2 separate regions of the Homo sapiens genome follow, and region 2 is linked to region 1. Evidence: fine-mapped expression QTL. A gene starts in region 1. The other region holds a variant in brackets. All regions are shown on one strand. Distances are from middle to middle.

Evidence for each region. PIP is the estimated chance that this variant, and not a neighbour inherited with it, causes the effect.
Region 2: its variant is the best candidate, but not a certain one, in a credible set for the expression of NOSIP in testis (GTEx, PIP 0.53).

The regions. Positions count from the first base shown.
Region 1 is chr19:49,578,744-49,583,124 of GRCh38, forward strand. NOSIP (nitric oxide synthase interacting protein) reads right to left here and starts at 1,813. Exons shown (of 9, transcript NM_001270960.2): 1 at 1,772-1,813. It overlaps PRRG2 (proline rich and Gla domain 2), which reads left to right and starts at 2,573. Exons shown (of 7, transcript NM_000951.3): 1 at 2,573-2,738.
Region 2 is chr19:49,552,439-49,556,819 of GRCh38, forward strand. It overlaps NOSIP (nitric oxide synthase interacting protein), which reads right to left. Exons shown (of 9, transcript NM_001270960.2): 7 at 4,111-4,298; 8 at 3,879-3,987; 9 at 3,030-3,384. The coding sequence ends at 3,313. Among named protein-coding and RNA genes, the nearest start is that of NOSIP, 26 kb to the right of the region's middle. RefSeq lists an enhancer at 3,614-4,381. The variant T/TTTG (reference allele first, on the strand shown) is at 1,851.

The sequences.
Region 1 (4,381 bases):
TCACGCAATTCTCCTGCCTCAGCCTCCTGAGTAGCTGGGACTACAGGTGCCTGCCATCATGCCCGGCTAAGGGGTTTCACCGTGTTAGCCAGGATGGTCTTGATCTCCTGATCTCATGATCCGCCCGCCTTGGCCTCCCAAAGTGCTGGGATTACAGGCATGAGCCACTGTGTCTGGCCTATTTTTAAATACTTAAAAAAAAAAAGAAAGAAAACAGAAGCAGGTAAAATGAGACCACAAAAAAGCAAACGGGACAAATTCAGATGGTGGGATGATCAACTGAACTAGAATTAGTTTCTTCAATGAATCGATTACACCAAGAAATAACCAAAGTGGAGTGGAAGGGGGAACAGTTCTAAATTAAGAGAGATGTAAAAGACGATAGCAATTACTTAACTATATCCTGATTCCAACAAACCCACAGTTACACTGGACTTGACTCTGCACCACGTAATGGATAGTAGTCTAGAATTACGGTTGTTCTTTTAAAGTGTGATGATGGTATTGTGGTCATATCAGCAATGTTTCTGGTTTTTACACACGCACCCTGTTAGATAAAATTTATAGAAGGTCATTGGTTTGGATTGAGCTCCTGCACTAGGTTCAACAGACCAAACCAAAATGGAGACACTCATGCTAAAGTTCCATGCTTCCAAGCCAAAACTAAGTTGATATCTGATCTTCTGAGATATCAGGAGAGAGATAATAGCCAAATCCCCAAACAACCCAGTTTTAGCCCACCTGATAAAGGAAGTCCCCTCTACTTTAACCTTTAACTTAGAAATTTAATCAAGTTAATCAATTTAATCAACTAGCTTTTTGTTTTCCGTTTCTGATTTTCTCAGCCCTTTGTCTCTGAAAACAACCTCTGCTCAGCTCATCGGAACACTCACGCTATTTTCCATAATTAGATGTTGTTTGATTGTAGATTCACGAATAAATGCCAATTAAGATCTTCTCACTAAATGTGTTGCAATTTTGTCTTTTGACAATCCTTAAGTGTCATGATGCCTACGATTTGTTTTAATCTCTTTAAGTTTAAAAAAATACAGCAAGTATGGCAAAAATAATCATTGGTGATTTGGGTGACAGGAATTCCTGTATTCTTCTCTCACTTTTATATAAGTTTGAACATTTTCGTAAGAAAACATTAACATCAAACTGCCTCAAGGACCGTTCAAGCCCCAAGTTCACAGAATTAGCAGCACAATCAGAATGGGAATCCATGACTGCCTGACCCCGAAGCTCCACACAAGAAAACGTGAATCCCTGCACCAACCCCGAAAGGGAAGGGGCTGTCAAAAAGGTGAAGAGAAGGTGGCGATGGATGACTGCACAATCTAGTATCGCCCGCCGTCCCACCACAGTCTGAGAAACTGAGGCCAGGAAAGGAGTTCTCCCTCCTCAACTCCCACTCCTTAGACCCCCAGCAATCCCAGTCCACTCCTTCCCTTGGGACCACCAGCAAATAGCCATCATCTACAGCAGAACTGTAACTCTCAGGAGAACTGGCCGATGCTAGCTACCACTTGACTGAGTTTATAGTGAGAGAGAGAGACAAAGAGAGAGAGAACTGCCCGATGGACGGTTGGCCACCTCCAGCAGAGTGTAGTTCAGCTTCAAACTTGGGGCGCCCGGACAGCTGTATTAATAATGATTGACAGGGAATCGGGAATCCAAAATCTTGCCCCAGTCTCCCTCAAGACCCCAGGCCTCTAGCCCGCAGGAAAGCGATCCCAGCAACACTCTTCCTGCACCGCCTCGAACTCACCTCACTAACGACTCCCAGTCCCTCGGTCGCTTCTTCAACTGTGCCCCGACACCGGAAAGGAGCACTATTTTCCCCCTCCGCTCCGCCCACTTCCGCCCAGCAGAAGGCACCGGAAGTAGAGCTGCCCCTAGTTGCGGAAGTGCCTCGCCTGGCTTGCTCAAGTCCTCTCTTCTCTTTCTCTCTCCGGAAACGTGAGTAGCTAATCGAAAGTTCCGGATATTGAAACTGGTGGGAATATGGGGAACGCTTACTATGTACGAGGCATTTCCCAGGGAGATCGTTTTTTCCTGCTTGGTTCCCAGGTTTTGAGTCTCTCCAAGCCCAAATTTAAGGACTAATCACTTCCCCTAGAGATCGGGAAGCCCACTTTCCCAAATATATCATCCACTTTTCTTGCTGCATCTTAAAACAATTGAGAAGAGACAACTACGCTCCCATTTTACAGACAGAGCCATTGGGAAATTGAAAATCAAAGCCGTTCAAGTCGCTCTCAGGAAACAGGGATTTACTGCGGCACTGCCCAGCTGTCCCAGGGACTAAGGCATATCGTTCCCGCTAGTTTCTAGATACCTAGAGACCTAGATATTAATTTTTCTAGCTCGGACAGACGAACTCCCAGGGGAGAGCCAGAGCGGGTAGGGGTCGGGAGGGAGGAGGAGGGTCGAATCTAATCCCCCAGGTATCCCATGGTATTCGACACCTTGGCTTCCTCATGGAGCTCTGGCCTTTAAGTCCTTTATCCCAAGGTCCCTTTAAATACTTTGTCCCTTACCTGAGTCCCGCCCAGGGCAGGTAATGGCAAGTTCCGCCCACCTGCCAGAAACGGGGATCAGGCCTGGTTACCGGGAGTGGGGCGCCCCTCCTCCTTATCCCCTCCCCTCTTCCCTGTCCCCTTTCACAGCTGGCTGTAGCTGGCCAAGGAGTTCTCGATTAAAGAGGAAGGGGCAGTGCTCACATTTCTGGGCAGGTAAGTGAATGTCCCTGGAGGAAGAGCCTGGCTTGGGGACCCAGGCATCCTGGCTCCCCGCCCCTCCGAGACCCAGAAGTTTGGGGCTCCTAGGCCCAGGAGTCCAGGGCCCCTGCCCACTTAGGTCCCTAGACCCAATAATATAACTAATCCCCTGCCTCTGCCTCTCTCGTAATCTTTGTTGTCTGTGGGTGGATGTGACAATGAGCACAGAAAGAGGCACAAGTGGAAATTACCAGGAAGGGAAGACTCCAGATCACCAGTGGACATGTTTATAAGCATCTGTGTCAGGTGCTGTAGACACAGTGGGGAAAGAAAGATAAGCTGCCTGCTCCTTGCTTTCTTCTCTGGCGGACACTGCCTTCACTGAAATCCTGGCTCTCACACTTGCACACTGTGTGACCTTCGGCAAGCTATATTACCTCTCTGTGCCTCAGTTTCCTGTTCTCTATACTGGGGATAATAATAGGACTCCTGGTCGGGCGCAGTGGCTCACACCTGTAATCCCAGCACTTTGGGAGGCCGAGGCGGGTGGATCACTTGAGGTCAGGAGTTTGAGACCAGCCTGGCCAACATGGTGAAACCCCATCTCTACTAAAAATACAAAAAATTAGCCAGGCGTGGTGGTGCGCACCTGTAATCTCAACTACCCGGGAGGCTGAGTCAGGAGAATCGCTTGAACCCAGGAGGCAGAGGTCACAGTGAGCTGAGATAGCGCCACTGCACTCCAGCCTGGGTGACAGAGCGAGACTCTGTCTAAAAAAAAAAAAAAAAAAAAACTCCTGTGAAAAGTTTTGTTTTGTTTTGTTTTTGACATGGAATCTCGCTCTGTCACCCAGGCTGGAGTGCAGTGGCACAGTCTCGGCTCACTGCAACCTCTGTCTCCCCTTTCAAGTGATTATTCTGGCTCAGCCTCCCAAGTAGTTGGGATTACAGGCGCCCACAACCACGCCTGGCTAATTTTTGTATGACTCCTGTGAAAAGTAAAATGAGTTGAGGCCGGGCACAGTGGCTCACGCCTGTAATCCCAGCACCAGCACTTTGGGAGGCTGAGGCAGGCAGATCACTTGAGGTCAGGAATTCAAGACCAGCCTGGCCAACATGGTGAAACCCCATCTCTACTAAAAATATGAAAATTCACTTTGGGAGGCTGAGGCGGGCAGATCACGAGGTCAGGAGATCGAGACCATCCTGACTAACACAGTGAAACCCCATCTCTACTAAAAATACAAAAAAATTAGCCGGGCATGGTGGCCGGCACCTGTAGTCCCAGCTACTCGGGAGGCTGAGGCAGGAGAATGGCATGAACCTGGGGGGTGGAGTGTGCAGTGAGCGGAGATCACACCAATGCACTCTAGCCTGGGTGACAGAGCGAGACTCTGTCTCAAAAAAAAAAGAAAATTAGCGGGTGTGGTGGCGCATGCCTGTAATCCCAGCTACTTGGTAGGCTGAGGCACGAGAATCGCTTGAACCCAGGACACAGAGGTTGCAGTGAGCTGAGACTGTGCCACTGCACTCCAGCCTGGCTGACAGAGCGAGACTCCATGTCAAAAAAAAAAAAAAGTAAAATGAGTTTATATAGGTAAACAGTATCTGGCACAGAATACAGGCTGTGTAAGTGGCTGCTATTATTGCCATTCGTG
Region 2 (4,381 bases), 26 kb before region 1:
GTGTGAGCCACTGCGCCTGGCCCGTTTTTATTTTTTTATTTTTATTTTTATTTTTATTTTTATTTTGGGACAGAGTCTCACTCTGTCGCCCAGGCTGGAGTGCAGTGGCGCGATCTTGGCTCACTGCAACGTCTGCCTCAGGTTCAAGCAATTCTCCTGCCTCAGCCTCCTGAGTAGCTGGGACTACGGACGCATGCCACGACGCCCGGCTAATTTTTTATATTTTCAGTAAAGACAGGGTTTTACCCTGTTAGCCAGGATGGTCTCAATCTCCTGACCTCATGATCTGCCCGCCTCAGCCTCCCAAAGTGTTGGGATTATAGGTGTGAGCCACCACGCCTGGCCCGTTTTTAAATCTTTACAAGTAACTGTAATTTTCTGGACGCGCTGCCTGTGAGCTTCTTGAAACTGGAGCCCTCGGCAGGCACGCCTGCCATCAGCGCCACCAAGCCCAGGTCTTGCTCTAAACTTTAGACCAGTGTCTAAGGAAACTCTGCTCAAAAAAGACAAGATTTGTCTCACTTCCCGTCTCTTTCTTCTGCTACGGCTGAAGCTGTGGTTCTGCTCTTGCTTCCTCTCCAAGTACTTTAGAACCTTAAATGACAGAACAGGGTGAGGTGACTCAAATGTGTAATCCCAGCACTTTGGGAATCTGAGGCGGGTGGATCACTTGAGGTCAGGAGTTGAAGACCAGCCTAGATAGCCGGGTGCGGTGGCTCACGCCTGTAATCCCAGCACTTTGGGAGGCCGAGGCGGGCGGATCACGAGGTCGGGAGATCGAGACCATCCTGGCTAACACGGTGAAACCCTGTCTCCACTAAAAATACAAAAAAGAATTAGCCAGGCATGGTGGTGGTCGCCTGTAGTCCCAACTACTCGGGAGGCTGAGGCAGGAGAATGGCGTAAACCCGGGAGGCAGAGCTTGCAGTGAGCCGAGATAGCGCCACTGCACTCCAGCCTGGGCAAAAGAGCGAGACTCCGTCTCAAAAAAAAAAAAAAAAAAAAAAAAAAACCCAGCCTGGCCAACATGGCGAAACTACATCTCTACTAAAATACTAAAAATACAAAACAAACAAACAAAAACCAGCTGGCTGTGCTGGCAGCACCTGTAGTCCCAGCTACCCAGGAGGCTGAGGCAGGAGCCAGGATCACGCAAGTGCACTCCAGCCTGGGCAATAGAGCAAGGCTCCATCTCAAAACAAAAAAAAAAATGACAGAACAGATTGGAGCCAGGACTTTGACCTCCCCACCCTGCACTGCACAAAGAGTCTGTGAACAGAGTGGTGTTTGAGTTCCTTTGGGAAAACACAGGTGCAAGATTAGAAACCCTTCAGGTTATTACTGGGGGCACCGGTGATCTGTTCAACATATGAACAAGACTGGGGTTCTTAGATGGCTGAGAAAGCTGGAAGGACTCGGGTGGTTGAGAGGTCTTGAGAAAGAGGACAAGGATTAGGGATGTGGAAGGAAAGGGTATGACATGGAACTCTGGGTATGGAGGGATGGGGTGGGAGCTTGTGGAGGTGGAGAGGCCAGTGGGTCTCTAGGGGAGGGAGGACATGAAGGATGGGGGAAGTCCAGGACAAAGTCTGGGGGCGTCTCAGAGGAAACTGGCTCCTGGGGGAACCTGGCTTCCGTCACTCCCTCGAGCACGTGTGACTTTGCTCAAGTTGTGCCTTCTCGATCATGCCATTGCACTCCAGCCTGGGGAGTGGAAAAGTATTACTCACTGAACAGGATGGTGCATGCACTGTGATTCACTTTGGTTGAAACCTCATGTGTACTCACATAAAGAACAGGAAGGACAGAACCTAGGTGGCATTGCTCTGCGAGGCAGGAATGCTGTGTTT[T/TTTG]TTGTTGTTGGTGTTGTTATTGTTGTTTTTTGAGACAGAGTCTCACTTTGTCGCCCAGGCTGGAGTGCAGTGGCACGATCTCAGCTCACTGCAACCTCCGCCTCCCGGGTTCAAGCAATTCTCCCGCCTCAGCCTCCCGAGTAGCTAGGATTACAGGCGCCGGCCACCACACCCGGCTCATTTTTGTATTTTTAGTAGAGATGGGGGTTTCACCATGTTGGCCAGGCTGGTCTTGAACTCCTGACCTCGTGATCCACCCGCCTCGGCCTCCCAAAGTGCTGGGATTACAGGCGTGAGCCACCGCACCCGGCTATCTAGGCTGGTCTTGAACTCCTGACCTCAAGTGATCCACCCGCCTCAGATTCCCAAAGTGCTGGGATTACAGGCGTGAGCCACCGCACCCGGCCTGTCTTGTTTTAATCTTTGCTTGTCTCCGTGCTGTTTTTCACACTGCCCAGCAGCTGCTTTTGTGACTCAATGGTTATTAAACACAAGGCCTTAAGGACAGCCCCTACATTCCCAGTCAAGTCTGACGCCACCGGGCTGGTTCCTGGTCCCCGCTCTGCCCTGGCTCCCTCACTCTCCCCTGTACGCCCTCTGCTCCTTAAATCTGCAAAGTGCGTTGCTGCCTCTGGGCCTTTGCACTCGCGGTTTCCTCTTCCTTTCCCCCTCAGGCTGCCACAGGTGGGGGCGTGATGCTCCTGACCGCCTTTCCTAGTCCGGGTGCTGCGCACTTTTTCACAGAACTGCACTTCCTTTGTGGGTCTAATCACACTGCAGCCCGGAAGACACGTTCCTGGGCATTTCCTGTTCTTCAAACCTGGCAAAAATCCGGGAACCCTAACAAAGAACTCGAGAAATTTCTATGTAGCTCATTAAAGTGGCGCACTCACACGGTCTTGGCTTAGACTTGGACTTCCGGCCACTCAACCAATTTTAATGCTGTGCATTTGCGTTCTATTCAGGTTTTTTTTTTTTTTTCTTCTTTGAGATGGAGTCTCGCTCTGTTGCCCAGGCTGAAGTGCAATGGTGCGATCTTGGCTCACTGCAACCTCCGCCTCCTGGGTTCAAGCGATTCTCCTGCCTCAGCCTCTGGAGTAGCTGGGAATACAAGTGCGCACCACCATGCCCGGCTAATTTTTGTATTTTTAGTAGAGACAAGGTTTCACCATGTTGGCCAGGCTGGTCTCGAACTCCTGACCTCAAGTGATACGCTAGCCTCGGCCTCCGAAAGTGCTGGGATTACAGGCGTGAGCCACCGTGCCTGGCCAGATTTTGTTCTTAATGTGAGACCACATTCAATATGCTTAGCCCGCTCTTTCAAACTCCAGCGTGCGCTGTAGGAGCACTGTTTGCACGGCCCTGCATCCTCGCCTGCCCTGTCCCCGGGGCGCCCACGCCGCGAATGAAGGCGCCACGTCGTTGCGCACCCAAGCCGGTTTATTTGGTCTCCCGCACACACTCAGGCCTGCATCACCGGCCGTGATTTCTCCGCTTGCAGCTTCACTCCGGAGCCCGCGAAGCCGGTACCGCCCTGGGGGAGGTAGAGAGAAGGACGAGGTAGAGGCCGGCCCGGGGGTGACCAGTGGGGCTCCAGGTGGTAGTGGGGATTCCTAAGCGGGTCAAGGTGAAGCGGGTTGCTGGCTAAGGAGTAGGAGTTGGGGAGGGGGCGAGGCGACCGCAGTGGGTACGGATGGACAGGGCGCAGGGCGCAGAGAAGAGGGTAGAGAGTGGCAGGGGAGGAGCCTTGGGAGGGAGCGTGTGGAGGGGGTGGAGCCGTGGAGGGCTGGAGGCAGGGAAGGGGCGGGGCCTTGAAAAGGAAGGAGGAGGCGGGGCCTAGGAGAGCGGAGGGGGGGAAGGGCGGGGCCTTGCAGGAGAAAGCGGGGGGGGGGGGCGGCCTTACAGAGCAGAGAAGAAGGCGGGGCCTTGGAGAGTTGGGGGAAGGGGAGGGGACGAAGCCTTGGAGGGGGTGAAGGGGAGGGGCGGGGCCTTGGAGTGCTGGGGGAAGGGGAGGGGTGGGACTCTTACCCGCTGCAGCACGATGATGTCGCGGTCTGTGAGTTTGTCTCCAGTCACAGGGTCCACCATGTCCTTCCGAATCAGCTTCTCCACGCATTCGAGGGTGACCACAGCCCCACTACGGTGAGGCCGAAGGCGGGAGACTCTGATCAGGGGCCTTCCTGGGGACCTACTGGCCCCAAAGCCGGACCGCCCCGCAGGTTCCCGAGTGGTCCCTTCCCTCCCCTCCCAGGTGACTCACGAGGGCCGCAGCACAGCGCAGGGGGTGGCGTTGCTCAGGCTGTCGCGGGTCACGGCACACACGTAGCGCTCGCTGCGGGTGATGAGCCCCACGCGGTCCACGGAGCTGTCTAGCGGTGTGAAGTGCACGGGCGTCAGGTCCGACATGCGCAGGGGCTTCCCTGACATGGGGCAGGTCACCGTGCGGGACTGCAAGGGGCAGAGAGAGGCGGGCTCAGTAGGCAGGGCTGGCGCAGGTGGAGAGCGCGTGGTCCCTGTGCGTGAGGAGGACG